Linked DNA regions of Homo sapiens. The protein of the gene in region 4 purifies or fractionates together with the protein of the main gene of each other region. This does not show direct contact. Each region holds a gene or a part of one and is shown on either strand. Other genes may lie near its edges.

Region 1 (4,367 bases), on a different chromosome or scaffold from region 4:
TCCCACTCCATTAGCATCCTTCTGGCTTTATCTGCTTCCCAACTAAACTGAAGCCCCCACATCTAACAGCTAAATACCCTCTCCTTAAGCACATTAAATGGCTGTGTTGAACCTCCTTCCAAATTTCCACACCTGTCAATCTCCACACCAGTCAAATTCTTTACTTATGCTTCCAGATCCCAAGGACTTTTGAAGAAAGTCAGCAGAGTGAGTTAAATAACTTCACTATAGATAATGCTACTTAACCTCAGCTGCACTGCCTGGCAATTCTTAAGAACTGTCTGGGATCCCCTATTACACTGCCAAGAACCAGGATTAAAATTTTCATAAACTTCTTCAATTTCCCTCCTTTCCTCTCTAAATGTCTCTGAACCTTCACCTACTCTCTCCTTCTGTCTTAGAAGCATCTCTTTTCTAGACTAGACTCTTGACCCTACTGCCTCTATTACTTGTAAGTCCCACTGCCCATCTTACAGTGTTAGCCAGACTCCTCTCTACTGGTTTCTTCCTTTCAATCTATAAGCATGTTCATAATCCTCACATCCTTGAATGTAAAAAAATATTTAAAAACTAGCCTTTTCTGGCCGGGTGCGATGGCTTACACCTGTAATTCTCAGCACTTTGAGGGGAGGCAAAGGAGGGTGGATCACCTGAGGTCAGGAGTTCGAGACCGGCTTGGCCAACATGGTGAAATCCCGTCTCTACTAAAAATACAAAAATTGGCCAGGCATGGTGGCATGCGCCTGTAATCACAGCTACTTGGGAGGCTGAGGTAGGAGAATCACTTGAACCCGGGAGGCGGAGATTGCAGTGAGCTGAGAATGCACAACTGTACTCTAGTCTGGGCAACAAGAGCGAAACTCCATCTCAGAAAAAAAAAAAAAAATCAGCCTTTTCTTTCCTTAACGAGGCCATTTCCTTAAGCTATAATATTACCCATTCTGTACCCTTGCCTTTACTGTTAACAGTGTAGTTTCTATTCACTGCCTGTCCCTCAATACATTCACTCCCCAGCCCTTTGAATTATCCCTCCTACTGTACACACCTGTTCTCAAAGGTCACCTAAATTTCATGCCAAAATTCAGGGGACTTTTTCTATTCCTTCTTCTCCCTGGTCTCTCCAGCATTGGAGAGTGTAGCCCTTCCTCCATTCCTGCTCTTCTGTTCTCTCATGTCCTGACATACTTCTGTCCCCGACTTCTTAAAATTCTTCTCCCTTGACCTAAGAGACAGTTATCTTAATTAACTCTCTAAATTAATCCAAAGCCAAATAAATTTTTCCCATCTTCCCAAATCTATCCTCTTCCTAATGTCTGCATTTCTGTAAATGGCACTGATATCTCTTTGTCACTCAAGCTCAAAATCTGAAATTCTTTGGCTCTTTTCCTTCCCTCACCAATTCAAGACTGCTTGGATCTACCTCCACAATACATTTTATATATTAAAATTCCATATGAGTGAAATAGTCCTTCCTTTCTTATAAAGACTTAGATTCTCATAATAGTCTCTGAACTGGTCTTCCTTTTCCAAATAACTCTACTACCAGAGTCTGATCATGTCACTACAGTACTGAAACCTACCACGAACAGCCAGGCAGCCCAGCAACACCTCTAAGAGATATGCAGTTCCTTTCGATCAGCCACAATCTATATTCGTCTTAAACATGGCAACCTCCTGGATGATGGAGGCCCATGTCATCTTAAAAATCATCTCCAACAACACTAAAAGCATTGTCTTGACCAAGGAAGTCGTAAGAATGTTTCTATTCATCCCCTTGACAACAGCTAAAAATAATGTACTTACTTCTTCAGTGACTATTTCATGCAAATCTGGAATGCTGAGATCTGCTTTCACAAAAGGAATCTTGTCCACCTCTTCAGGAAATGGCCGATGTTTCACAGAATATTTAAATCCAACGTCATTTTTAGGAACTGGGCGAGGTTCAGGTACAAAAAGCTGTTAAAACAAGTAACATTATGTTTATTACACAGGGTCCAATACCCATCTGTAATGACATGTATTTCCCTGGTCTCTTAGATGCCTGTGTTTCCCTAGGATTACATGTCACAAAAACTCACTCAGAACCTGCAAATGCTACAGATAACAGCAAAGGGAAGCAGCCTGTGCCCCTGTGTACTCTATTTTTCTAAAAATATTCATCGACTTCTTATAGATCTAATGACTGACAAATGGGCTGTGGACCTCTACTGCTGCAGGCCTGAATCTCCCACATTCAGTGGTTATCCAATGGGTATAGCATTTTGGAGCTTTAAGACTCAAACTCTCTTCCCCAGGGGCTCTCACATCATTCAATATAATTAAAGACAAGTTTGGCTTCACTGGGCATCTCTAGAAAGTGATTTTAACAAGAATCTTAATACGGCTTAATTGAGAGTATGGGCACCAAATCTAGGTCTTCACAGCTCCAAATCCATGCTTTAATATGTATATGGGTACATGGTGAACCCTAAACAAATTTTAGCTCCTTTCCTGGTCCCCTTCCTCTTCAGTCTTCAATGCTAACTTACTGGCTTACAGAGTTGATGACAGGATGTGCTCTGTACTGCCCCCTCCAAAAAAATGGAGGACTGGGTGATAAACACATCACATCTAACAGAGACATCTAAGATATTAAATGATTTTAGGCACATGCTCCAATTTTGTGGTGTCTCTCAAATGCTAGTGAAATATTAAGTCACATTTTAAATTTTTTTTAATCACATTTTTTTATTATGATACTTTAAGTTTTAGGGTACATGTGCATAATGTGCAGGTTAGTTAAATATGTATACATGTGACATGCTGGTGCGCTGCACCCACTAACTCGTCATCTAGCATTAGGTATATCTCCCATTGCTATCCCTCCCCACTCCCCCTACCCGACAACAGGCCCCAGAGTGTGATGTTCCCCCTCCTGTGTCCATGTGTTCCCACTGTTCAATTCCCACCTATGAGTGAGAATATGCGGTGTTTGGTTTTTTGTTCTTGCGATAGTTTACTGAGAATGATGATTTCCAATTTCATCCATGTCCCTACAAAGGACATGAACTCATCATTTTTTATGGCTGCATAGTGTTCCATGGTGTATATGTGCCACATTTTCTTAATCCAGTCTATCATTGTTGGACATTTTATATTTTTAATAGCAGAAATAAAAGCTTACAATGTTATAAATGAAAAGAGCAGTATACAAAATGACTCAAATTCTATTCAAGTGTTATTGTGTATGAAAAGAAAAAAAGGGAAGGAAATCCAATAAAATATTAGCAGTGGTTATATTCCTCTGGATAGTGAGTAAAGGTGATTTAAAATTTCTTCGTTATCTGAATTTTTCCAACTTCTCAAGTATTATTCACATAATTACAAATGTAATAAAATAAACTGCACCCCAAAAGATTTCATTAAATTATACACAGCATACATATGTGTGTGTGTGTGTGTATATGTATGTGTGTGTGTGTGTATATATATATATATTTTTTTTTTTTTTTTTAATTAGGCTGGGTGTGACAGCTCACATCTGTAATCCTAACACTTTGGGAAGCTGAGGTGGGAAGATCACTTGAAGACAGAAGTTTGGGATCAGCCTGGGCAACAAAGCAAGACCCTATCTCTACAAAAAATTTTAAAAATGAGCTGGGTGCCATGGCATGTGCCTACAGTCTCAGCTACTCAGGAGGATGAGGCAAGAGGATCACTGGAGCCCAGGAGCTTGAGGCTGCAGTGAGCTATGATTACACCACTGCACTCCAGTCTGGGCAACAGAACAAGACCCTGACTCTTTATAAAAAAAATAAAATTTATACAATATATTACCAATTATTATATAAGAACAAATCATATAAAACAATTTCAAACTAAGTCCTGTTGCGGACAAATCAAAAGTCCCACCAAATTTTTTTCACGTATGGTATATATCTGACTTTTATTACATTTGTAAAATTACATGGAAAAAACTGGGGCCATTGTCCACAACAGCAATTACTCCTAAGTAGATGTCAGAATCACCTGGAAAGCTTTTTGAAAAGACACCTGCCTTGAACATGTCTTTAAAGAGTAATTGAGTACATCTGGAATTCTAGGTTCCTAGATGATTCTGATATGAACCCACTGACTGAGAATCTGGCTAGGGATCAAAAATATTTATTTGATCTGTGTCTTCTGTTGGAATGTTACCTAACCTTTAAATTACAAAACACACACACACTTCCCTGTAACTTCTGATGAATACCTTCTGATTTGCTTTTGCTCCTCTGGGTAAAAGACAAAGCTGTTGTGCCCAAGCAAGTCTTCCAGACATTCCCCGGACCAGCACAGTGACAGAGGGGAAAAAATCATCTAGAATAAAATATGTATATAAAAGTTTT
Region 2 (4,367 bases), on a different chromosome or scaffold from region 4:
GGCACAGTGGCTCATGCCTGTAATCCCAGCATTTTGGGAGGCCCAGGCACACGATCACTTGGGGCCAGGAGTTCGAAACCAGTCTGGCCAACAAGGCAAAACCCATCTCTACTAAAAATACTAAAAAAAGAAATTAGCCAGGCGTAGTGGTACATGCCTGTAATCCCAGCTATTTTGCAGACTGAGGCAAAAGAATCGCTTGAACCAAGGAGGTGGAAGTAGTAGTGAGCCAAGATTGCACCACTGCACTCCAGCCTGGGCAACACAGCTGTCTGTGTCAAAAAAAAAAAAAAAAAAGTACACAAAGAAATGAAGAGCACTGTAAATGGTACTACATGGGTATGAGACTTTTTATTACTTAAAAATCTTTAAAAGATCACTACTTGTTTAAACAAAATAATATAGTGTATGGCTGATAACATGATAAGTAAAATATATGACAACAAAAGCATAAAGGTTGGGTGAAGAAATGGAAGTAAATTCTTACAAGGTTCTTATACTACATGGGAAGTGGTATAGTATCACTTAAAGGTGTACACTCTGGCAAGTTAAAGATGTATACTATAGGCTGGGCACAGTGGCTCACCCATGTAATCCCAACACTTCAGGAGGCTGAGGCAGGTGGATCACCTGAGGTCAGAAGTTCGAGACCAGCCTGGCCAACATGGGGAAACCCTGTCTCTACTAAAAATACAAAAATAAGCTGGGCGTGGCAATGCGTGCCTGTAATCCCAGCTACTTGGGAAGCTGAGGCAGGAGAATCGCTCTAACCTGAGAGGCGGAGGTTGCAGTGAGCCAAGATCGTACCACTGCACTCCAGCCTGGGCAACAGAGCGAGACTCGGTCCCAGAAAAAAAAAAAAAGAAAAAAGGTATATACTATAAATCATAAAGCAGTCACTGAAATAATAAATCGAGGGAAAATAATCATAAAATTTACTCAACTAATTCAAAAGAAGGGAGAAAAAAGGGTACTAAGGAACAGACAGGCCAAACAGAAAACAAATAGAAAGATGACAAACTCAAACCTAACCATATCAACAATCATGTTAAATGTAACTATCCAAACATCTCAATTAAAAGGCATAGATAATTAGGTTAGATAAAAAAGACCCAACCATATGCTGCCAACAATATAAACCCACTTCACATATAAAAACACAAGTAGATTTAAAAGATGGGAATATATATATATCCTGCTAACACTAATCAAATGAAAAGTGGCAATGGCTATATTAATATCAAAGTAGATTCCAAAGCAAAGACTATTACCAGGGAGAAAGATATCATTTCAAAATGATAAAGAAGTCAATTCATCAAAAAGAAATAATCCTAAAGGTTTAGGCAGCTAATGACAGAGCTTCAAAACATATGAAGTAAATACTGATAGAAGTTCAAAAGAAAACAGACAAAACCCACAATTACAGTCAGAAACTTCAGCCCTCTTCTCTCAGTACTTGATGAAAACAGCTAGACAGAAATTCAGTAAGGACAGAGAAGACTTGAACAACACTAACAAGCAACTCGTCCTAATTGACATTTTTCGAACACCTAACCTACCAAGAGCAGAATATATATTCCTTTCAAGTGCATACAAGAAATTTATCAAGTTAAAATGTCTCTGGACCATCAAACAAATTTCATTAGCTTTTAAATAATTCAGGTTATAAAAAATAGTGTTTTCTAACTACAATGGAATTGAATTAGAAATCAACAACCAAAAGGTATCTGAATAATCCATAAATATGTGAAGCTAAAGAACAGACTTGTAAATAACCCATGGATTAAAAAAAATCAAAAGGAAAGTTGAAAGTATTTTGGAACTAAATGAAAATGAAAATACAAAATATTCTAAGTTGTGAGATGCTAGTTAGGGGAAAATTTTTTATCACCAAATGCCTACAGTAGAAAGAAGAACAGTTTCAAATCAATAATCACAGCTTCCCTTTATGAAACAACAAAAAGAGCAAATTAAACTAAACTAAGTAGAAGAAAGAAAGTAACAAAGACTGCCAGGCATGGTAGCTCACACCTGTAATCCCAGCACTTTGGGAGGCCCAGGCTGGTGGATCACTTGAGGTCAGGAGTTTGAGACCAGCCTGGCCAACAAGGTAACAACCTGTCTCTACTAAAAATACAAAAATTAGCCAGGCGGGGTGGCGCATGCCTGTAGTCCCAGCTACTCGGGAGGCTGAGGCAGAAGAACAGCTTGAACCTGGGAGGCGGAGGTTGCAGTGAGGCAAGATTGCGCCATTGCACTCCAGCCTGGGCGACGAGCGAAACTCTGTCTCCTGCGTCCCGCCTCCAAAAATAAAAAAGAAAATAGCAAAGACCAAAGCAGACATCAATTAAAAAAAAAAAAAAAACCACACACACACGGAAAAATCAATAAAACCAAAAGATAGTTCTTTTAGAAGATCAATAAAAGCGATAAGACTCTAGTCAGGCTGATCAGGAAAAGAAAGACAAATTATCAGACAAGAAACGAGAAGGATAACATTACCATGGGTCCTGCTATATATATATACACAGACACACACACACACACACACACACACACACACACACACATTTGAGATAGAGTCTCGCTCTGTTGCCCTGGCTGGAGTACAGTGGCATAATCTTGGCTCACTGCAACCTCTGCCTCCTGGGTTCAGGTGATTCTCCTGCCTCAGCCTCCCTAGTAGCTGGGACTACAAGCATGCGCCACAAGGTCCAGCTACTTTTGTATTTTTAGTTCACACAGGGTTTCAGTATGTTGGTCAGGCTGGTCTCGAACTCCTGACCTCTAGTGATCCACCCGCCTTGGCCTCCCAAAGTGCTGGGATTATAAGCATGAGCCACCATGCCTGGACATGAATCCTATAATATTAAAAGGATAATAAGAGAGTATAATCAACAATTTATACCTATAAATTTGACAACTTAGATGAAATCTTCTGTTTATACCAACAGAAACAGAAAAAGCATTCAATAAATCCAACATCCATTCCTGATAGAAACCCTCAGCCAACCAGGAATAGAATGAAACTCTCTAAATCTGATAAAGGGCATCTACAAAAAACCTACAGTTAGGATCATATTATACAGTGAAAAAAATCAATCGATTGCTTTACCCCTAAGATCAAGAACAAGACAAGACTGCCCACTCTCATTACTTCTAATCTATGTCACATTGGAGGTTCTAGTCACTTCAGTAAGGCAAGAAAAAGAAATAAAGGGCATCCAGATTAGAAAGGAAGAAGTAAAACTGTATTTGCAGACTGATTCTCTATGAAAAATATCCAAAAGAATCTACAAAAAACTAACAGAACTGGCTGGGTGCTGTGGCTCACACCTGTAATCCCAGGACTTTGGGAGGCCAAGGCAGGTGGCTCACGAGGTCAGGAGTTCGAGACCAGCCTTATCAACATGGTGAAACCCCGTCTCTACTACAAACACAAAAATCAGCCAGGCTCAGTGGTGTGTGCCTGTAATCCCAGCCACTCAGTAGGCTGAGGCAGGAGAATTGCTTGAACCTGGGAGGCGGAGGTTGCAGTGAGCTGAGATCATGCCACTGCACTCCAGCCTGGGCAACAGAGTGAGACTCTGTCTCAAAAAAATAAATAAATAACAGAACTAAGTCAGTTCAGCAGGTTTGTAGGACATAAGCTCACTATACATAAATCAGTGGTATTTCCTGATATGAGATCCAATCAGAAATAGATATAAAGGTAACATTTACAAAAGATCAAAGTAGAAAGTATTTAGGTATAAGTCTGACAAAAGATGTATAAGACCTGCACACTGAACTACAAAACACTGCTGAGAGAAATTAAAGAAGTCCTAAGTAGGTGGAGAAACGCCTTGTTCATGAATCAGTGTATTCAATATCGTCAATTTTCCCAAATTGATCTATAGATTCAACATAATCCCAACCAAAATCCCAATAGGTTTTTTGGTGGTGGTGGGTTTTTTTTTTTTTTAAGAAACTGACCTTTAAAAAAAAAAATACAGTGTCACTGTGTCACCCAGGCTGGAGTGCAGTGGTGCAATCATGGCTCATTGCAACCTCGACCTCCCAGGCCCAGGTGATCCTCTCACCTCAGCCTCCCAGGTGACTGGGATCCCAGGCACACACTACCATGCCCAGCTATTTCTTTTTTTTCTCTTTTTTGGAGAGATGGGGTTTCAGCATGTTGTCCAAGCTGGTCTCAAACTCCTGGGCTCAAGCAATCTGCCCACCTGAGCCTCCCAAAGTGCTGGGATTACAGGTGTGAGCCACCACACCAAGCTCAACTAATCTTTAGACTCATATGGAAATGTAAAGGACCTGGCATTTGGGAAAAAAAGAAACTTTGAAAAGGAAGAACAAAGTAGGAGGGACAA
Region 3 (4,367 bases), about 49 Mb from region 4:
CTCGAACTCCTGACCTCAGGTGATCCACCCTCCTCGGCCTCCCAAAGTGCTGGGATTATAGGCGTGAGCCACTGCGCCTGGCCCACCAGGCTCCAGCATTTCTAAGACAACCTACTCTAAGCCGTGATTCTCAGATGTCAGCAAATATCAGAATGGCTTAAAATGCGGTTCCAAGGCCCCACCTGGAGCACTTCTAAGAATCTGCATTTTCAATAAGGTGGGTCTGAGGTTGGCTACTTTTAGGGAGGCCAACTGTTCCTGTTTGTCTGGGACCTTGCAGGTTTTAGCACAGCAAATTCTGTATCCAGGAACAGCCTTAGTCCCAGCAAACTGATGCTGTTGGCCACCCTACCACATTTTACCCCCAACTCACCATCTTAGGCTGGCTGTGCCAGAGGAGCAGTTGAGTTCTCCGGCTGGCTTGGGGGGTGTGGGGCTGGGAGAGCCCTGGACAGGCCTGTGCATGGAAGCCTCAGCGGCGAGGGTCCAAGGCCCTGAGCCCAGGACTGGACCAGAAGCACTGCCTAGAAAGCCCAGAAGCCAGCATGTGACAGCTCAGCCATGCTGGCAGCTCGAGGTGGCCTGGAGAGGAAGGACTTTGTCCAGGTGAGGCTCCAGGTACTTCCCCTGTTCTCTAGGAAATGGGAAGCTAGATCCTCCCGTACCTGATGCAGGTTCTCCTCCCAGCAGCTGCCCCTCTCATTCTCCTAACACACAGCTTTCATGACAGGCATGAGCACTGGACTGGAAGTCAGCAGCCCTACCTTCTAGTCACTTATCTTCTGGGCCTCAGTTTCCCCATCAGTGAAATGAGGGCATGACTTTTGCTCATCCTGAGTGCTTTACCCACACTGGTTCCTTTCATCTTCTCCTCATCCCCACCAGATAGATGTCGATGCTGCGGCTGAGGGAGGCAGTCACTCGCTCAAAGTCACACACCTAATGAGTGGTGGGACTGGGATTTGAACCCAGTTGTCTGGCCCCAGGGACCACAGGCTCAAGTACCTTGCCACGGCTCCATCATGTTGCCCCTCCTGATCAAGAACCAGCGCTGGCTCCCCATTACATAGGGATGAAATGAAAACAAGCTCATTATAGCCTGAGTCTAAACTAGACCTCTTAAGGTTCCACGGTGAAAACACCTTCCCCTCACTTGTGTCTCCTCTTGGTGCCTTCCCTGGGGAACCTGCCCCAGCCACCCAGCCCACTGTCTCATCCTGCCTCCAGACCCGTTTCCTGCACCCTCATTTACTTTAATAACTCCTTCCCTGTCCTGGGCCAATGGTGTTGCAAGCCTTTCCTGTCTATTATCACACTTGAGTTTCATGATTGCCCATGAGGTTGGCCAAGTAGGTGTCATTATCCCACTTTAAGGTGAGGTTAATGGGCCCAGAGAGACTAAGTGATTTAGTCAAGCTCAGCTGGCCGATGTGTGACCCAGCCTGGTCTAAAACCTAATTCTTGACTCTGGTCCCAGCACCACCTGAGCCCTCGGCTTGCAGCCCCTCCCTTCCCCAACCTCAGATGTAGCTTGTTCACCTGTGCTAAGCCCTTGTTCAGACCGTGGTCCTGGGGACCCTCCTGGGCAGGGGTGCTTCAGTCTTCACTGGGGATCCCCCAGCATCTCACACAGAGCCTGGCACATGGAGAGGCAGGGGCGCTGGGCTGAAACACCCTACACCCAGGGGCTGGAGCCTGGGGACTGAGTGGGGTTTTCATACCAGAAGGACCATCAAGGGCGCTCAGCCCTTGCCCATGGACACTGGAGGCCCAAGGAACAGCTTTGGGGTTGAGGGAGTTCCATAAAAAGTGTACAGGCTTCAGCCAGGCGCGGTGGCTCGCGCCTGTAATCCCAGCTGGGAGGCTGAGGCAGGCGGATCACTTGAGGTCAGGAGTTCAAGACCAGTCTGGCCAATATGGTGAAACCCTGTTTCTACTGAAAATACAAAAATTAGCCGGACACGGTGGTGGGCTGTGTTGTCCCAGCTGCTTGGGAGGCTGAGGCATGAGAATTGCTTGAACCCGGGAGGTGGAGGTTGCAGTGAGCCAAGATTGCACCACTGCACTCCAGCCTGGGCGACAGAGCAAGACTCTGTCTCAAAAAAAAAAAAAAAAAAAAAAAAAAAAGGCTTCCTTGGGAGATGGAAGGCGAGTGCCTCAGGAGCGTGGCTGAGGGTGTTCCCGAGGGTATGAGAGGCTGCTCTTCCTACCTGGGTTTGTCTTCCTGTGTCTCTTTCCGACTCCCTGTCTCTGACTCTCCATCTCGCTGGGTCTCTCCAAGTCTCTCTGTCCCTATCTCTCTGTCTCTGTGTCTTCATGCCTCTCTCCCTGGTTCTGCCATTTCCCCTGTGGGGGGCTGCCCAGGGCCAAACAGGCCAGAGGGCTCCACCAGCCCTGGAAATTACAGGCTTTGGGAGTAGGGTTGCCAGATAAAATAAAAGATGCCTAGTTAAAATTGAATTTCAGGTAAATAATTAATAATTTTTTTAGTATAAGTGTATCCCAAATACTTCACGGGAGTACCAAACAATGATTGACTGTTCACTTGAAATTCAAGTCCAACTGAGCTTTCTGTATTTTTATTTGCTAAGTCTGGCAGCCCTGCTTAGGAGGAGAAACAGGTGTGTCTGTCCCTCCCAACTGGTGAGGACACCTGACAGGGGCCCAGACACCAGAGTGGGACCTGCCTGATGGAGAGAAGCTTGGGCTTGGTTTATTTCCCTTTTCATAAAAAAGCTGCTTTGAGATGTAAGAGAATCATGTTGGTGGAAGAGTGAAGAGGTTGTTTTGGGGGAGGTCTGCCTTACTCTGAGGGAAGATGGGAAGCGGGGGGAGTGGCCAGCTGTGGAAATTTGGGGTAGTCCCCTACGTATCCTGTGCCTCAGTTTCCCCATGTGTAAACAGGAGTAATTATCTCATCCTGGGGCTGCAGTGAGGATCAGATGAGCTAATGTACAAAAAGGCTTAGGCAGGCCTGCCGTGATAAGAGTGCAGAGGCTGGGGGCTTTTTATGTTATGGTATTGTTGTTATTATTACTCCTGGGGAGGTGGTGGGCAAGAGTGTGGACTGAGGAGCCACATGGCTGGGTTTGGATCCCAGCCCGGCCACAGACCTTGGGCAAGTTACTTAACCTCGGCTTTCTCATCTGTATAATGGGAGACAATAATAGATAGTGCCTCCCTTCTAGGGTTATTGAGAGGATTGCATGATGGGCTGGCACACAGCATGAGCTCAGTAAGTGTCAGTCACTGTTATCCCCCAGGGGCATGCATGCCGCTGCCTCCAGGAGGCCCTCCAACTCGCAGTGGCCTCTCCCTACATGGGTTCCCACTGAGCTGTGATCCTGTGGCCTTGAGCCCCATCTGGCTGCCCTGGACAATGTTGGTCCTCAGCTCCCCAGCGGGATCAACAGTGGGGAGAGCAGTGGGTGGATCTGCCCGCCAGGCAGTACCTGAGTGCACAGTGGGCACCCCACAGTCAAAGGATGCATAGTCTGGTTTCCAAGGAGGAACCCCAGGCTAGGTGGAATGAGGGAAATGCAATCTCAGGGCCAGATAACATCACAGATACTTTAAACCTGCAATTAATTTCTGGTTGTTTGACCAAATCCGGCCAAGTTTCCCGGGTGACACTGCAGAGCTGTGGAACAGCATGGGCTTGGAGTCAGACCTGTTGCACATCTGGCTCTGCCATGTGATGCAACCTCAGGCTTGTCACGAGGCCTCCTTGAGCCTCAGTTGCTAATATGCCAAATGGGGATGATATTGCTCACCTTACAGCTTGTAAGAGTGGAGGGAGCTGCGTGCGCCAGGTGCCTGGCATGCAGCGGGCACTCAACCAGATTGAATTCCCTTCCCAGGGAAGAATTCAAGGATATCTTCCCACCCACTAAGGAGACATGTGATGGGATCTGGGGTGAGAATTGCTCTTTTTAAAGCTCTCAGAACTGTAAGGGGCTCCACCCACCAATGGCTGGTGTTCACTGAGCTCTTCGTGCCCAGACCTGCACTGGGGATTTATCGAGCACATGGCTGGCTTCTGACTTCCGAAGAGCTCGCCATTCTGGTGAGTGGTAAAGAAACTCACAAGGGAAATGTTAATGAACACAGGGGCTTAGAACATCAGACTGTGTGTATGTTTTTTTGTTTTGTTTTGAAACAGGGTCTTGCTCTGTCGCCCAGGCTGGAGTGCAGTGGTGCAATCTTGGCTCACTGCAACCTCTGCCTCCTGGGTTCAAGCGATTCTCCTGCCTCAGCCTCCCCAGTAGCTGGGATTACAGGCATATGCTACCACGCCTGGCTATTTTCTTGTATTTTTAGTAGAGACAGGGTTTCACCATGTTGGCCAGGCTCGACCTCAAGTGATC
Region 4 (4,367 bases):
CATAATGTTTGAAGAGTATATACTATTCTCACAAGAAAAAATTATATTCTTTTGCATTTCTGGAAAATACACCATTTTATAGATATTTCACTTTAAATGGTTTTCTTACAACAATTTAAATAAATGTTTTCCAAAGCAGAGGATGCATAGACTCCCTTGAGAAACTTATACAAAGTACAGATACCTGGGTGGCATTCTAAACCAATTAAATAAAATTTAAAAAGTATATTTAATATATATATCTGCTAGGTCCTAACACCCCCCAAAATACATATATGTATATTTAATAATGATCTCTACCTATATTTACATATAATACGCAATATATTATATTCACATATAATACGCAATATATTATATTCACATATAATACGCAATATATTATATTCACATATAATACGCAATATATTATATTCACATATAATACGCAATATATTATATTCACATATAATACGCAATATATTATATTCACATATAATACGCAATATATTATATTCACATATAATACGCAATATATTATATTCACATATAATACGCAATATATTATATTCACATATAATATATTCACATATATTATATATTATATTCACATATATCATATTATATTCACATATAATATATCGTATTATATTCACATATATCATATTTATATATTTGCATATTTTATATAATATTTTAAACTATTTGTATAAATATTTATATTTAAAATATTTGTATAAATATTTATATTTAAAATATTTGTATAAATATTTATATTTAAAATATTTGTATAAATATTTATATTTATGAATATAATGTGTTATTTTATATGTTATAGATTGTATAGGTTTTATATGTATCTAGGTTGTATATGTAAATATTATAAATAAATATTTATATTATTTAAATATGTATACACATATATTTCTTTTTAGCATCAATTCAGAACCAGCATTTGATTGAGAAATACAGTCAAGTTTGAGATGTCCTGATTTTTATTAAAGTACAACTTCCTTCATTTGAAGAAAAATAATCTGAACATATTTAATAAAAAATTATAATGCATTAAAAACGTGGTAAATGAAATGAGCCAGGCACAGAAAGACCAATACCACACGATCTCACTCTTTTTTTTTTTTTTTTTTTTTTTTTTTTTGAGACGGAGTCTCGCTCTGTCGCCCAGGCCGGACTGCGGACTGCAGTGGCGCAATCTCAGCTCACTGCAAGCTCCGCCTCCCGGGTTCACGCCATTCTCCCGCCTCAGCCTCCCGAGTAGCTGGGACTACAGGCGCCCGCCACCGCGCCCGGCTAATTTTTTGTATTTTTAGTAGAGACGGGGTTTCACCTTGTTAGCCAGGATGGTCTCGATCTCCTGACCTCATGATCCACCCGCCTCGGCCTCCCAAAGTGCTGGGATTACAGGCGTGAGCCACCGCGCCCGGCCCACACGATCTCACTCTTATGTGGAATATTTAAAAGTTGATCTTGGCTGGGCACAGTGGCACTTTGGGAGGCCAAGGAACGGGGATCATCTGAGGCTGGGAGTTCAAGACCAGCCTGGCCAACATGGTGAAACCCCGTCTCTATCGAAAATACAAAAATTAGCCAGGATGATGGTGCATGCCTGTAATCCCAGCTACTTGGGAGGCTGAGGCAGGAGGATCGCTTGAACCCAGGATGTGGATGTTGCTATTAGCCGAGATCGTGCCACTGCACTCCAGCTTGGGCAACAGAGGGAGACTTCATCTCAAAAAACTAAATAAAATAAAATAAAATAAAATAAAATAACATAAAAATAAAAGTTGATCTTATAGAATTAGAGAGTAGAATGGTGGTTACCAGAGGCTGAGGTAGTGGTGGTGGGGTGGGGTGGGGGTTTGTTTAGAGAGATGTTGGTCAAAAGACACAAAATTTCAGTTAGATGAGAGGAATAAATTCAAGAGATTGATTGCATAAGGTGGTGACTGTAGGTAATAACCATATACTGTATTCCTGAAAAATGCTAAAGTGAATGGAAAGTGTTCTCATCACAAAAATAACTATGTGAGGTAATACGTATGTTAGTTTAGTCATTCCATAACGTACATATATTCAAAATATCATGTTGTACCTAATACAGACATACAATTGTACCTGTCAATTTAAAAAATAAAAAAGTTTAAAAAAATCTAGGGAGTCAGCTGGTGTGGTGGCTCATGCCTGTAATCCCAGCACTTTAGGAGGCTGATGCGGGCGGATCACCTGAGGTCAGGAGTTCCAGACCAGCATAGCCAACAGGGTGAAATCCCGTCTCTATTAAAAATACAAAAAATTAGCAGGGCTTGGTGGTGCATGCCTGTATTCCTAGCTACTCAGGAGGCTGAGGCAGGAGAATCGCTTGAACACAGGAGGTGGACATTGCAGTGAGCCAAGATTGTGCCACTGCACTCCAGCCTGGGTGATAGGGTGAGACTCTGTCTCAAAAAAAAAAAAAAAAACCAAAAAAATCTAGGCAGTCAAGTGGCTGGGAACCAATGAGAGACTCAGGCACTATCAGGATCCTGGTATGAATTAGGCTTATTTAGTATATCAATAATAATTTGAGATAAGGGCAATTCTAGATACAAAAAGAAAGTTCTCATATATTGTAAGTATCAAACATTCCTTTATTATTGAACTATTTCTTAGTGTTAGATTTTATTAGAATTCTTTCATAGGACTATCTTACTAGAAAAACAAAAGCAGATTGTGTACCTTGAATCATTTAAAATAAGAGGTTTTAGTATAGTAATGTTCTTAACAAAATTATAATCATCTTGTTTATCAATATAAACTTATAATCTTAATTAGTATAATGTTTTGCAACTTCATTTTTTTGTGGCACATTTCTCTAATTTTGTGATAAAATATTTTACTTGTAAGCTTAAACTAATAAGAATATGTATGAATATTTTTGTCAGTAGTCCCCAAGTTATCTTTTAAAGTTTCCATTTAAAAAAATGAGTTATAGCTTTTAAATACTGTTAAAAGAAGTGTTACTTTAGTTACTTTTATTCAATAGTAGGTACTTTAGAAAACAAATATGTCATGTGGAAGAGATACCGATCATGTAAATAGGCTTACCTGATATTTGAGCATGTCAACGTTATAATATGTAGCCTGGGGTTTTTGTTCAGACACTTTCTTTAGGTGAGTCATCAAATTTGGCATGTTTACCCAGAATTCCTTGGTATTGGCATCATTTTGTGTATTATCACTGTTCATTTGGGAAGAAAAATGATTGAGTAGCATCTTAAAACAAATATAAACCCTACACGAAGCATCTTAGCAAATTGTCGTCTGATATGTACAGCCATTTTTTGACAATTTGTAGAGATTATTATGAATCTATTAACAGTAGTGTGGTTTTCATACAAATACAGTTCTGAATGCTATGGTGTTGGTAGATTAATATCCACGAGGAGGAGCTACTGTGTTGCTATCAATCTCAGTGAGTGCTCAGTAATATTAACTAATTGCGATGATAATTGGGAGCTTTAAAGAGTGAATTATTTATTAACTCAAACTTAATATCCCTTTCTATGAAACCAGCTTTGTCTAAATTAGTCAGTTAAGGCAATTAAGGAACTGAATACGTTTATTTACTTTTGAATTACTTTGACCAGTAGTTTCTCAGAAATTATCCAGTGAAATATTTGGCCAAATGTAAACATGGTCTTTATCACCAACTAAGCAGAAAAGAGTGATACTAAAATTACCATGCTGCCTTTTCAGCATTCATAATATTTCATCCATGAGCATTTAAATCATCAAAGATTTCACTTCACTTATAAGATGATCCTGGAGTTTAAATGATAATTTTGGTAGTTATAATACAGAAGAAGAGCAGAGTCTCTATAAGCTAAGAAGTTTTATATCCCTATGAGAGTCTTAGCTTTGCTCAGAGGCCTGTATACAGACCACTTACCCAATCTATCTTGCAAATGCTCATCTCAATGATAAAAAGAATCAGGCAAGAGTGTACAAACATATAACTCATTTCCCGTATAATGAGGAAGCTGAGGCCACAAGTGATTCAGTTACTTGTCACACACATTTGCTGACAGTTCACTTTCAGAATATCCTATATAGTGCAATAACAGTAGTTACAGTTTCTTAACCACCTATTATATGCTAGGCATTATAAACTATTTCATTAAAATCTACCCTGCAAAGGAAGAATTATTGTCTTTGTTTTTAAAGATGAGCAAACTTGTTAAAAAAAAAAGAGAGAAAATTAGGGGTTGAGAAGAGAGAAGGCTGATACAGTGAAAAAGTGAAAAGACAGGTCAAAAGTAAGTTGCTATGATTCAGCCTCCAGAAGTCTCATAAATCAAGAAAGCTGAGTAAAAAACACCAGGGCTTTAAAA
Region 5 (5,156 bases), on a different chromosome or scaffold from region 4:
TCATGGGACATTCATTTAACTTTAGAAAACAGAATAGTATTTTGTTTTAGAGTTAGTACATTGAAAAATGGGTCAGAAAATACAGATTGGTTTTCTTGTCAGTAAAAGTAATCTGCCATATTTTATGCTTGAATTACTAATAATTTCACTTATATGCATATTGTAATCACTCTGTGTTACATACATTTCTCCATTTAGTTTTTAAGATTTTTTTAAGAAGGAACCTAAAATAAAGAGCAAAGATCAAGCTTCTTTAATATGTCCAATTTCAGATATGAAGTAGGCATCCTATATTATGTTTTATCAGGAATAATACAATTTAACTAAAAGATATTGTTAATAACAGATACTCAGACTCTAAAGTAATTTACATAGCTTTTGAACGTATGTTTTCAAAGAACTTAGTAGCATCCCATACTGTGTTATGTTTATAGGTTTAGACCTCTCCCCCTCTATTGAGCTCTTAACACTTTTAAAATGGAAAACAAATAGTAAAGCAGTTGCTAAAAATGGCAGTTGGAGTAGCTTAAGAGTTTGAATTGTTTGTTTAAGGACTGAAACCAAATATAAAAACTTTTAAGGGGATTTTTTTTCATCATTCAACAAGGAACTGAAAATTACAAGGCTTATTTGCAATCTTAATTATTTACTCAATCTGTTTCCTCCCACGTCTCTAAATGGGAACGCATAACTTTAATTTTAAAGGACATATTCCCATAGGGAAATATAGATATCACTGTAAAACTTACGACTTTGAATTAAGTAAAAAGATTGTGGCCATCACTGGCTTTTGAGCTGCAGAAGCAGAAGACATGTACCTGCCCTTCGGGGGTATTAGGGACCCGACTAAACACACTTATTCTTCTCTCTGATTGCTGGACCATTCCCCAACTATTTGGAGCTCCACAAAGTATCAGGACTTCATCAAGAGCTCAGTGAAGGGTGAGATCTCAAAGATAAATATAGAGGACTCATTCCAAATATAGAACCAGTTAAGTTTGCATGCTCCCTTCTGTTGAAGAAATATCAAGGGGTTTCCTGTCTTGGCACTACTTAGCAGCAGCTGCGGCTATGTATCCACTTGACATCTGGTGAAATTGTAGTTTTTGATGGAGGAACATTTAAAGTTGACAACTGTCATTGAAACAACTGGTATATAGTTTTCAAAGACAAGCTAGAAACCAGTAATAGACTAAGTACTTCAATTTTGTTAAAAGAAACTGGGTAAAGGGTTCAAGTTATATAAGATAGGGAAGTCTGGTTTTCCAGGTAAAGGTTCTCTCTCTTTTTCTGTTGGAGATGTCATTCATCAACATAACGAAGCCTAAATTTAAAAGACTAAGACAAAATATTTACAAATCACATAAAAGTGAGGAAACAGCAAAATTAGTAGTCATTAGGAGAAAGCCAGGGAAGACAGGACATTCATCACATCCTTTCCTCATCTGCTTTCCTCACTGAGTCTCTGAGTGCTCATTAAATGCTTTCAATACAGTGTAATTAAGTGTGTGAACATGGTTGTCATGCTCCTCCAGGAATCTTGAAACCAGGAATGCCAGGTATATAACAGCGGGTTACAAAAGAAAACACGGATTCCTAAATCAGTGTTTTACTGTCAGTGCAGTGTTAAATGTCAATGCAACACTTAAGTTGCATTGACATTCATGTGTTGATCGGATTGTACAATGTGACGTGTGAGATTTCTCGGGACCGTCGAAGCTCAGACAACTCCAGGGCTGCAATTTACTCGTCTGGCTGCCCTCGAACCAGGCTCCCTTGGCGCGTGGGGCTCTCCCGGCGCTTGGTCCCGACCCGCGCCGCAGTCAGGATACCACGGCAATCTGGGGTCGCTTTGTAAGGAGCTCCGACCTCCGGGCAGTGCAGGGATACTCGACGGCGCGCGATGTCCCGGCGGCTCCGCGAGCCTGGCGCGCTGAGAGCCCCAGCAGTCCGAGTCCTCGAGCTCGGGCGTCTTCGCGCCGCCGCCCCGCTCAGTGCGCCCAGGCACCGCGGCCGTGACGTCACGCCCGGGACTGGCCGTTGCAGCAAGACGGCCGCGTTCCGGTTCCGGTAGGTTGCCCGGGAGACGCGGGTACACAGAGAAGCGGCTCCCGTCGGAGGCCGAGTCGTCGCCACGATCGCCCCCTTGGTGGACTCGCAGGCCGAGCGGCTTCCCCGCAGAGCTCGAGGAGGGCAGACGGCGGCGGGGGCGCCATGAGTCAGAGGCAGGTGCTGCAAGGTAGGGCCGAGGCGGGCAGGTGCCCTAACTAGCTGGCGCCGAGGAGACCCGGGTGCGGTGGGCTCCACCGACTCTCTCTCCCGCAGTGTTCGAGCAATACCAGAAGGCCAGGACCCAGTTCGTGCAGATGGTGGCGGAGCTGGCGACTAGACCCCAAAACATCGAGACGCTGCAGAACGCGGGTGAGCCCGGAGCCCGAACCCCCGTCGCCCCCCGCGCACTGAGTCCCCGACGCCTCCGCCCCGCTGCCCTGCCCGTGGAGCTCTTGGGGAGCCGCAGTGTGGGGACCGGAGTTCGCAAAAGCATCCATTCTTTTCAGCGGGTCTTTGGGGGTCAGGCCGAGAGGGTGAAGCTTCCAGATGGTTGTGGGAGGTGCGCGTTGTCCCTGTTTCCATCTTCATTGCACACAGGCAAGTGTCAGGTTGAAAGTCGAGGCCCTAGGAATTGCCTGGAGTCATTTTACGTGAATGGGACTCTACCCTAATGAGACCCATTTTATCCAAGTGCCATTTTGCATGCCACCCTGCCTTTGATCACCTTCGACTTCCTCACAGCAAAGCAATTCCAGTGGTTTAGACGTGATTTCTCGTCTTGCTTTAGTGAAAGGGGAATGATATGCTTGAATCTTTTCCAAGAAATTCCAAGTAGGTAGAGACCAGACTTTGCGAAATCCTTATGGCGCGTTCCTTCTACTCCTCAGTCCGGACTCTTGCAGATGTGAGAGGGGGAGAGAGGGGGAGAGGGAGGGAGAGAGATCTTCTTATCTCATAACATAAACTGATAAGAGAAAATGGTTCTTCTTCTTCTTCTTCTTCTTCTTCTTCTTCTTCTTCTTCTTCTTCTTCTTCTTCTTCTTCTTCTTTCTTCTTCTTCTTCCTCTTCTTCTTCTTCTTTTCTTCTTTCTTCTTTCTTCTTCTTTTTTTTTGGATGATTCTACCACCATCTGAACTGTAAGGTAGCATTTTATCACTACTGTGTCATGAGAAATCTTCAGTTTATAGGATGTGATCTTTAAAACTAACACATAATTTAAACAATTAACATGTTGACAGCAAGAATACTTAAGTGTAATGATTACTCTGGGTTTCTTTGAGGGGAATTACTACTGCACCTATGTGATACTTCGTTTTGTCACTAGGATTTTTGGCATTTATTCCTTGTGTGTTTTTATTGGGGGGCATGTATTTACAATAAAGTATATTTTATAATCTTCTAAACGCATTTTAGTTTGAAATAATTGTAGATTCACAACTGTAAGGGATAATACAGAGAGATCCCGTGTACCCTTTTCTCAGTTTCCCCAATGGTAACATTTTTCAAAACTGTAGTGCAATATCACAAGGAGGACATTGACATTGATAAAAATTCGTTGATCTTATATAGGTTTCCTCCTTTTAATTGTTCGTGTGTGTGTGTGTTTTGTCCTATAGAATTTTATTCCGTGCGTATCCACCACCAGCACAGTCAAGATACAGAACACTTTCATTGTCACAAGGATCCTCTCTCTTGCCCTTTTATAGCCACACACACCTCCTGCTATCCCTAACCCTGGACAACCACTAATCTCTTCTCCATTTCTAAAATTTTGTCATTTCAGAATTGATAATCCTTTGTTCTATAGTTGTTTTATATGGGTTGATTTTCTGTATTCTGTGTGTGTGTATGCACCCGTACTCCTCCAAGTACCCAGAACAATACTGGGCACACAGTATTTCATATACACAGACTAACACAGACTAAGGTATTAGAACATGTTACATTTTAGAAGTGTATTTAAAAGTAATTTTAAAGTGTAAACTTTTAAAGTTTTTTCTCTCAGTCCCTCTCAATGACCTTTGTGAATGGACATTTACTACTTAACAAAGATTTAGTTTCTGGACAATATGAATATAGCCAAACTAAAACTTTTAAAATGGGAAAATAATTGATATTATTTTCAAATTTTAATACTGAGATGTTAAAGTATACATAACTTTTAAGATACGGAGTATCATGTTTTAGTGAGTAGTGGCAGGTTAGCTCCTCCCATAAGAGTGCAATGTAGACTTCACAATGGAACTTAATCCAAATTGACTGTATAAGTGGCTTAGATATAAGATTCTACACTTATGGTCTGGCTTAGGAAAGATGAATACGAAAGGAATATAACTTTATGTTTTGAAATTCTCTGCACTTGACTAATATCTGGGTAGCATGCTAAAATGTTTCTTTTCCTGAGGGACTTATTTTTAACAAATTTCATGTTATCGAGATTCAATTCAAGCATTCCTTTAGCAATTTTAAATACAGACATAATGAATATTCAATGTATTTATTCTTTTGATTAAAAAAGAACCTGTAAACTTTGTTATGAAAACTTTTCTTTCTTTCTTTGAGACAGAGTCTTGCTCTGTTGCCAGGCTAGAGTGCAGTGGCATGATCTCGGCTCACTACAACCTCCGCCTCCCAGGTTCAAGCGATTCTCCTGCCTCAGCCTCCTGAGTAGCTGAGACTACAGGTGTGCGCCACCATGCCCAGCTAATTTTTGTACTTTTAGTAGAGACGGGGTTCCAGCATGTTGGCCAGGATGGTCTCGATCACTTGACCTTGTGATCCACCCGCCTTGGCCTCCCAAAGCACTGGGATTGCGCCCGGCCAGTTTTCTTTCTTAATAGTCAGTTTACTTAACCATTCAAATGATTTGTTCTTTTAAAAAATTACAATTTTAAAAAAGGGCTTTAGAATGAGCCTCAGTATGTGTAAATCAATTATACATTATGGTCAAACTTTTTTTCAGTCAAATGCCTTCATTTGGTAGCTTCAGATACCAATGCATATTACTCCTGACTTTGACATACTGTCTACATACCTGGAAGATTTTGTTTGTTTTCTCATTTTTCCCTCCAATATGCTAAGTAAATATATATCATGGATCCAA
Region 6 (4,367 bases), on a different chromosome or scaffold from region 4:
TAGTTTTCCACATTTTATGTATTCAAACACCATGTGATGGATATTTGAATTGCTTTCCAGTTTTTGACTATTGTGAATAATGCTAACAGACATGTACATACCTTTCTTTATTTGTACAGGTATTTTCATTTCTCTTGGGCAGATTCCTAAGAGTGGAACTGCTGGTTGCTATGGCAAATTTATGCTTAACTTTTTAAGAAAAAGCCAAACTGTTTCCCAATGTGGCTGTGTCATTTACAGTCCCAAGAAGTGCCTAAGGGTTCCAGTTTCTCAACAATACAAATACTAGGTATTGTCAGTCTTTTTAATTACAGCCACTCTGGTCAGTGTGTGATAGTATATCACTGTGATTTAATTTGCATTTCCCTAATGACTAATGGGGTTAACATCTTTTCATATGCTTATTGGCCATTCTTATTGTTGTCTTTGGTGAAATACCTATTCAATGGGCTTAAGCCTAAGAATGGGCTTTCGCCCAGTTTTTTTTTTTTCCTTATAAGTGAGTTGTAAGATTTTTCAAATATATTCTAGATTAAAGACCTTTACCATGTTTATAATATGCAAATATTTCTCCCCAATCTGTGGCTTATCTTTTTATACTTTCTTAAGTATCTTCTCAATTGTAAAAGTTTTAAAAATATTTAATAAAGCCCAATTATTTGTTTCTTTTCCTTTTCTTTTTTTTTTTTTGAGACAGGGTCTGGCTCTGTTGCCCAGGCTGGAGTCCATTGGCGCAATCTCGGGTCTCTCTGACCTCTGCCTCCCTGACCTCTGCCTCCCAGGCTTAAACCATCCTCCTGCCTCAGCCTCCCAAGTAGCTGGGACCACAGGTGCACACCACTATACCCAGCTAATTTATTTTATCTTTTTTTTTTACAGGCAGGGGTCTCCCTATGTTGCCCAGACTGGTCTCAAACTCCCGGGCTCAAGTGATCTGCCCGCCTCAACCTCACAAAGTGCTAGGATTACAGGCATAAGTCACTGTGCCCAGCCCTGTTTTGTAGTTTTAAATACAAAAATCTTGGTGACTCTTTTCTTAAGTTTATTCCCAAGTATGTTAGGCCTCTTTGAAGCTAATGTGAATGTATTTTTTTCTTACTTTCATATTAAGATTTTATGTTACTACTACACTGTTAATCCTGCCTCAGTTTGTAGAAAACAAATAAAAGCCATTAGGCCAGAACATCCTCCCACTAAATCTATATTCCACCCACTAAATCTATATTCCTACTTGCGTCTGTAACCATGTTGTTCTTTCTTCCCCACTGTTAAAACTGAGGAAGTGGCCGGGCACGGTGGCTCATGCCTGTAATCCCAGCACTTTGGGAGGCCAAGGCAGGCAGATCACGAGATCAGCAGTTCGAGACCAGCCTGGCCAACATGGTGAAACCCTGTCTCTACTAAGAAGACAAAAATCAGCCAGGCGTGGTGGTAGGCACCTGTAATCCCAGCAACTCTGATGGCTGAGGCAGGAGAATCGCTTCAACCCGGGAGGCGGAGGTTGCAGTGAGCCAAGACCAGGCCATTGCACTCCAGCCTGGGCGACAGAGCGAGAATCCATCACAAAAAAAAAAAAAAAAACAAAAAAAAAAAACTGAAGAAGTATCCCCTTCCTATCAAAGGACTCTGTGCAGTCAGGATCCTGACCACTCCTGCTTTCTCAAGGACTTCTCATCTCCCTTATCTTAGCAATCCTAACAACTAAAATCATTCTGCAGAATTTCTCACACTCAAAAAGAAACAAACAAAAAGATTTCCTTTATATCCTCATACATCTCTAGCTTCTACCCTGTATCTATTCCCTTTCATAGGTAAACTTCTTTAAAAGCTATCTATACACCCTGTCTCTAGTTCCTCAGCCATCATTTATCCCTCAAATCACTCAAATCTGGCATCCATCTACACTAGTCCATGAAACTGGCTCACTGAAGTTACTAATAACTTCCAGGTTGCCAAATCCAATGGCCACATTCCTGCCCACATGTTCTCAGCCTCTCAGTGAAATTCAATACAGCTGACTACCCACCCCCTTGAAATACTTGCATTATTTGGCATCCACGACATGATAATACTATATATTACACATTCCCAATTTGTACCACTCTGATTGTGTGCTTCCTAGCGTCCTTCCAAGAAGCCTTCCAGTTTACCCAACTTAGAAATGTTCAGCATTCCTCAGGATTCCAGTTCTAGTCAATCTTTCTCTCTTCTTTATAATCTTTTCTTCAATTATTTCATTACCTTAAGTATCACTAACATAGTGACAATCTTCAAACTGACATCTCTAAGCCAAGTATCTCTGAATTCCTCAAGATGTATAGATCTCTCTAACAGGCCTACTTGACAATCTTACAGGCTTCTGAGAACTAAGATAGACAAAAGGGGAACTGCTGAATTCACCCTTACCTCTCCCACGAAACAATCCCCCCCAAAATCCACTCCTCTTCCAACCATCCAATAGTGGCAACTTCCAGCAACATCCTTGAGTTCTTTCCCCTCCCTTATGTTCCATATCCAACCCTATTTATGCCTTCGTATTTCTACCACCTAAAAAATTCTCACAGATGTCCACTGCTCTCTATCCTACTGCCACCTCGCTAATCTAAGCCATTGCTGTCTGCTGCCTGGACTGTTGCATATCCACTAGCGTATCTGCTTCCACTTGCCCCCAGTATTCTTTTTGCTCATACAGCAGTCAGCATGATCTTTTAAAATATAATTCAGATGATGCTACACCCCCGAATAAAAACTTTTAGTATATTTCCACTAAAATCCAAATTCCTTATCACTGAGTACAAGGGCCTGCCTTATGCAGTCCCTGCCATTCTCCCCTCTTGTCCACAGTTTCAGTTCCTTAAACACACTGTGCTCTTCACAGCCTCAGGCCCTTCCCAGTTCTCTCTATATGAAACACCTTATTCTCCCTCCCCTGACCCCCCATCCAGGCATCCTCTAAGGGGCCTTCCCTTACACCTAAGTAGGTCCCCACTACCTCCTCTGATTCTACCACCCAATGATTCTCTATTATTGTACACAGTTCTTTTTTCCTTTTTTTTTTGTGGGTGGGGCGGGGGGGGGGGGGAACGGAGACTTGCTCTGTCACCCAGGCTGGAGTGCAATGACACTACTATGTTTACTATGTCTCATTGCAGCCTCAACTTCCCAGGCTCAAGTGATCCTCCTGCCTCTGCCTCTCAAGTAGCTGGGACTACAGGTGCAGGCCACCACGCCTGGCCAGTTCTTTTTCTTTTCGACATTGGCACAAGTCAGAGAAGATGTCTTGATCCTTCACCACTGCATGTATACCCCCAATACAAAGAACAGCCACAAAGAAGTCTTTGTTGAAAGTATTTAAAACTGATTTAAGACAGAAGTGTTTAGCATTTCACAGGTCAGCCTGCTCTTCCTTAAAACTGAATTAATGTAGAAGTCCATAAGATGAGCTTGACTCAATTAGGGGAAGGCTGGAAATCACAAATTAAGTGCAAAATTCTGTGGAACTATGTTTTCTAAGCAGATGTCCAGTGCGTGCAGCAGAATCTCAACGGAATCAACAGCCCAAAAGAGACAGACTAATAAATTCTGTCTTCATTATTTAATGAGACAGACCCCAAATTCAACACCTGGCTAATTCTTGAAACAAAATGCAGAAGAGATGTAGTATTCTTAATTTTAAAAAGCCTAAGTCTTAGAATTTATCAAATCTCAATGAAATCTGGTATACAGTTTAACTTCCATTAGACAAATTTCTTACACAGAGGGAAAAGATGAGTGAAGATGCATCTATAATAGGAAAGGCTACAGAAAATAAAACCTATATAAGGGAAAACATCAGAAATGACAAGTCTTATCACCCATTTCAAATTCTCACGACCTTGAAGAACTAAGCACCCATGGATTTATGACCCTTTCATCAGTTTCCTCTTGTATATATCTCCTCTTTGTATTCCTCAAAGAATGTCAAATAATCCTGTTCCAGTGTCAAGATAGTGGAGCAACTAACCACAAGACTTTGTGCTACTTTTAAAGGGGTGTGGCTGGAATAGATTAGCCGCTCCTACACAAAGATACTCTCATTTGAGTCAGAAATCATGAAAACCCAATCCCATAGCTATATCAGACATTCTGTGATTTGTTCAGGGTTACAAAGTTAGCTGATGCCAGAACTGGAACTTGCCTCCCACAGTTAGTGCTCTTTATACCAGCTTCTCATGCTCTTGTGTCGCTCCATCAAATGTTTGGCACGAATTCCCAATATACTAAAACTCTAACTCTGGGCTATTGATTAAAACAAACAAACAAACAAACAAAATGACTGAAACTAGCACAAGAAACTCAAGAAGACAGAAATTTTAAAAGTAAATAAA
Region 7 (4,367 bases), on a different chromosome or scaffold from region 4:
CATGTTGGTCTCTAAAAGGGAGACCCTTCATGCGCTCTCAGTGCCTTAAAAGTCTTAATATATCTCACTGAGGAAGCCAAGGCTAAACTTTCTACTTGACATTACAGGAGTTTTTCCCAAAGGGATTTTGGAGTCTGAGTTTAGCATACGATAATCATTTGCCACTTATCTCTGTCATTGAATTACTTTATCCCCCCTCTATTTCCACACTTTCCATCACAATCTACTCTCCATAATCAAGTGGCAGTGACATAAACCCTTTTGGGGACCTTTAGTAAGACCTTCGAAACTTGAGTTCACTTCTTTTTTCTTCTTTAGCTCTTTTTTAAAAAAATATTGGGCCAGGTGTGGTGGCTCACACCTGTAATCCCAGCACTTTGGGAGGCCAAAGTGGGCGGATCACAAGGTCAGGAGATCCAGACCATCCTGGTCAACATGGTGAAACCCCGTCTCTACTAAAAATACAAAGATTAGCTGGGCGTGGTGGCATACGCCTGTAATCCCGTCTACTTGGGAGGTTGAGGCAGGAGAATCACTTGAACCAGGGAGTCAGAGGTTGCAGTGAGCCAAGATTGTGCCACCGTACTCCAGCCTGGCAACAGAGCCAGACTCTGTCTAAAAAAAAAAAAAAAAAAAAATCAAATACATATATACTCCCTTTTTCATTAATAGTTTTGCCAGAATGTATGGCTTTTGATTATAAATCTTATTTTTAGGTCAGCATGGTGGCTCATGCCTGTAATCCCAGCACTTTGGGATGCTGAGACAGGAGGATTGCTTGAGCCTAGGAGTTCAAGACAGCCTAGGCAACAAACTCAGACCCTGCTTATCCAAAAAAAAAAAAAAAAAATTAGCCAGGTGTGGTGGCACACACCTGTGGTCTCAGCTACTGGGGAGGCTGAAGTGGGAGGATCATTTGAGCCCAGGAGTTATGATCATGCTACTGCACTCTAGCCTGGGTGACAGAGTGAGACCTTGTCTCTAAAATAATCGTAATAATAAATGAGTACATCTTTTTTGTAAGCTGAGATAGTGAGTTGCTGCTGTAGTATTTGTCCACAATTAAAACAATGTAGTAAACATATTAGATATTGAAATAGTTTCTAATTCCTAATAGTCATTCAAAATACATATCTTACTATGAACATTAAAAATACATATCTGAGCCAGGCATGGTGGCTCACACCTATAATCCCAGCACTTTGGGAGGTGGAGGCAGGTGGATCACTTACTTGAGGCCAGGAGTTTGAGAGCAACCTGGTCAACATAGCGAGATCCCATCTCTTAAAAAAGATACATACACACACATACACACACACACACACACATCTGTCTTAAAGTTTGAGTTCAGCTAAGGGGTCAGTTATGTTTCAGGAATGTCCATGCAGAAGAAAAGTGATTTATGTATTGAAAATCTGTGTCTGGTCAACATGAGAAGATCGTTTGAAGCTTGAATGGTGTGTTCTTCTGTCTACCTTGAAAAACTTGTCCCAAAGTGAGTTTTCAAGATACAGGATGTATGACTGTCTAATGCTTGTGAGGAGCTTAGCAAGAATGACCAGCGAATTGCTTATGAGTCTCATTAGCTCATTTACAGTTGCCTTAAAACATAGCTGCATTGGGCTAACCCAAATGCCTCATCAACATACCTGTACAGATTCAAATATATGAGAAGTCTTCCCTCTAGAGAGTGAGCCCTTGCTTAGTGCTGCCTTTACAGCACTGTGCATCTTCTGGATTGTTCCGTTCAGTGGAAGAGAAGCAATGACCCCTCATAACAGAGACCTAGATTGAGTTGCTAATTATTCAGCCAGTATACAGTATATACTATAGTGTGGTTACTGAGATACTGAATAGTTTAAGAGTTTCTGCCATAATTAGTACCTCACCTACTACTTAAAAAAAAATAAACAACCATAACTTAATTCATGTTTTCAAAAAAAATTTAAAGCTTGAAGGAACCATATTTGTAACAACAAAATGTCACTTAAAATGATGGAGCCTATCAATATATTGTTACCTATGCAAGAACTCCCTTTACAGAGCTTGAAGTAATGCTAGTAATGTGACACATAATATATTTTATTCATGATTTGTCATTTAAATGTGTTCAGAATACTGATGGATTCATAAATATCTCATGAAAGCATACATTTTGACAAAGTACCAGGAGGCCCAAGGACATACAAATGGGGCAGAGAATCAGAATCCATTTGCAGTGTCCCCGACCTCTCTCACTGGCATGTTATAGACAAGTAAAGGTTGCACCCATAGCTAACACACACAAAAAGAAACACAATTAACAAGTACCTTTTGTTTGTTACCTTCTCATAAATGGCAATTAAATGAGTAAAAGTAGGTTGGTGTTAAGCTTGGCAAAAGATACTGTGGGGAAGAAAGTTGGCTGCTGGTTGTGTTTATTGTTTGTGCCATTTCAAGCTAGCAACCCTAACTGAGTCTCAGTCATTAGAATTTAGGTTTATTCCAAAGGTAATATCGACAGCTCAAATATGAGATTTGGCCAACAGTTACATAAAGTCACCATGCAGAGTACACCTCTTAATTTTTTTCAAATTTGTTTATAAGTAGTAGCATAAGCTCATGATAGTCTTTGGATTCGTTTTTTAATCTTATGATTAGGATCAAGGGTCAAAATAATATATGCTGCATATAAGATAAGAAAATAGAGGAAGCATGTGCTTTATAATAACTTCAGACCATGTCTGTGAAAACATTGTTTCCCATCAATATTTGATTGAGAGATGCAGTTTATTCAATATGCACTATGTATCAGACACTGTTCTAAGTGCTTTACAAATATTAACCCACTACAGTTAATTTATAACTTTCCTCAGAGGTAGGCACTATTATTAGTCCCATATTGAGGAAAAATCAGGCACAGAGGGGTATGATTATTTGGTCAAAGTCACAGAGCTCATTAAGAGTGAGGCTGGGATTCCCCAGCCGGTGATCTTGAGTCCTTGTGGTTAATCACTGCAGGTAAATCCCTGCAAGTTAATCACTGTGGTTAATGGTGCTTTCTTTATATTCTTATATGAGTTCATTTAGCCTCTAGATCTCACAAGTAGAAATTAAAATACATATGATAAATTAAGTTTTGGTACTAGACAATTTCTACGTTAAATAGTGGAAAGAAATATGTTAATTAATAGAAATATAAGTTCATTAAAATCTTAGATGAAAAAAGATTTTAAAACAGAAATTCAAAAGTATATATTATAAATGAAAGTATCATGTGTAGATTCTGAGTTTGGGGCTTCTGCCCAAGCTGTGTCAGAAAAAAGCATTACCAAGAGGTGGACCTACTTCGTACCCCTTCTTCTGCCCTGACACAGGCAGGAGAATGCAAGGTCAGAGATAAGTGGTAGATGGGGGGCCCTCTAGTTGCTGCCCATGCTAAAGAGGCATGGCAGAATTTCTCAAGTAGTTGCTTTACCAGTTGCTGCAGAAAGCTGCTCCTGGCTGCTCTAACTTTAGGCCTCTAGAAGCCCTGCTGCTTGAATCCATTGGTTTTACCTCCTGACTTATTCTTGAGGATTCCCTGGCAATGAATACAGGTTCCACCTTACATTGACCTTACACTTCAAGGATTGTAAACCATTGCTGATACTTTATCCCACTTGAGGCTTATAAGGGTTCTGTGAAATAAGCCCATACCCTCATTCTGAGGATAAGGAAACTGAAGTTCATGGAAGGTAATGCAGGTGGAGGAAGCAGGACTAAAACTCAGATTTTCTGATTTTTTCTTAGCTGTTCTTTTGGGTTCTCTTGCATTGTGTACTATACCTTCACTCCTGGCCTGTACCCACCTTTGACAGGAGCCCAACTGACTCATCTGACTTCCTGATGACTATTCCCCTGGAAATCTTCCCTTAGTTTCATAAACTAACAACGATGAGACTGTCTGATCCCTAGATTGAGTGACTAGTTATTCAGCCAGCACCTATAGTCTGGTTATTGACATACTGGATAATTTCTGGGTTTCTACTATAATTAGTACCTCACCTACTACCTAAAAAAAGCCAACAAAAATAAAAATAACTCAATTCATGATTTTTTAAAAAGCTTGCACAAGCCATATTTTATAACAACAAAATGTCACTTAAAGTGATAGAGCCTATCAGTATGATATTGTACCTATGCAAGAACTCCCTTTACAAGGCTTGAAGTAATGCTGGTGCTGTGACACGTAATATAGTGTATTCATAATTTGTCACTTAAATGTTTTCATAATACTGATGGATTCATAAATATCTCATGAAAGCACAGCTTGAGTTTTTGCATCTGCTATTAGTAAAAGGTATGATAGTTGAAGCAACTGTTGACATTCACACTGAAATTCAATG

What was found.
Region 1: the proteins of SGIP1 (region 4) and RALGAPB purify together in Homo sapiens (affinity purification with mass spectrometry; one large-scale study listed by BioGRID and IntAct). This does not show direct contact.
Region 2: the proteins of SGIP1 (region 4) and RALGAPA1 purify together in Homo sapiens (affinity purification with mass spectrometry; one large-scale study listed by BioGRID and IntAct). This does not show direct contact.
Region 3: the proteins of SGIP1 (region 4) and PADI3 purify together in Homo sapiens (affinity purification with mass spectrometry; one large-scale study listed by BioGRID and IntAct). This does not show direct contact.
Region 5: the proteins of SGIP1 (region 4) and SPAG6 purify together in Homo sapiens (affinity purification with mass spectrometry; one large-scale study listed by BioGRID and IntAct). This does not show direct contact.
Region 6: the proteins of SGIP1 (region 4) and REPS1 purify together in Homo sapiens (affinity purification with western blotting, with the first as the bait; one study listed by BioGRID). This does not show direct contact.
Region 7: the proteins of SGIP1 (region 4) and CRYBG1 purify together in Homo sapiens (affinity purification with mass spectrometry; one large-scale study listed by BioGRID and IntAct). This does not show direct contact.

Annotation. Positions count from the first base shown.
Region 1 is NC_000020.11:38,548,660-38,553,026, reverse strand, and holds part of RALGAPB (ral GTPase-activating protein subunit beta), read right to left. Parts: intron 4,339-4,367; coding exon 4,232-4,338; intron 1,957-4,231; coding exon 1,804-1,956; intron 1-1,803. UniProt on the Homo sapiens protein: Non-catalytic subunit of the heterodimeric RalGAP1 and RalGAP2 complexes which act as GTPase activators for the Ras-like small GTPases RALA and RALB.
Region 2 is NC_000014.9:35,798,714-35,803,080, forward strand, and holds part of RALGAPA1 (ral GTPase-activating protein subunit alpha-1), read right to left. Parts: intron 1-4,367. UniProt on the Homo sapiens protein: Catalytic subunit of the heterodimeric RalGAP1 complex which acts as a GTPase activator for the Ras-like small GTPases RALA and RALB.
Region 3 is NC_000001.11:17,254,933-17,259,299, forward strand, and holds part of PADI3 (protein-arginine deiminase type-3), read left to right. Parts: intron 1-2,313; exon of another isoform or gene 2,314-4,066; intron 4,067-4,367. UniProt on the Homo sapiens protein: Catalyzes the deimination of arginine residues of proteins.
Region 4 is NC_000001.11:66,732,595-66,736,961, reverse strand, and holds part of SGIP1 (SH3-containing GRB2-like protein 3-interacting protein 1), read right to left. Parts: intron 3,215-4,367; coding exon 3,082-3,214; intron 1-3,081.
Region 5 is NC_000010.11:22,343,398-22,348,553, forward strand, and holds the start of SPAG6 (sperm-associated antigen 6), read left to right. Parts: upstream 1-2,098; 5' UTR 2,099-2,214; coding exon 2,215-2,239; exon of another isoform or gene 2,240-2,325; coding exon 2,326-2,421; intron 2,422-4,619; exon of another isoform or gene 4,620-4,736; intron 4,737-5,156. UniProt on the Homo sapiens protein: Important for structural integrity of the central apparatus in the sperm tail and for flagellar motility.
Region 6 is NC_000006.12:138,977,617-138,981,983, forward strand, and holds part of REPS1 (ralBP1-associated Eps domain-containing protein 1), read right to left. Parts: intron 1-4,367. UniProt on the Homo sapiens protein: May coordinate the cellular actions of activated EGF receptors and Ral-GTPases.
Region 7 is NC_000006.12:106,366,968-106,371,334, forward strand, and holds part of CRYBG1 (beta/gamma crystallin domain-containing protein 1), read left to right. Parts: intron 1-4,367. UniProt on the Homo sapiens protein: May function as suppressor of malignant melanoma. It may exert its effects through interactions with the cytoskeleton.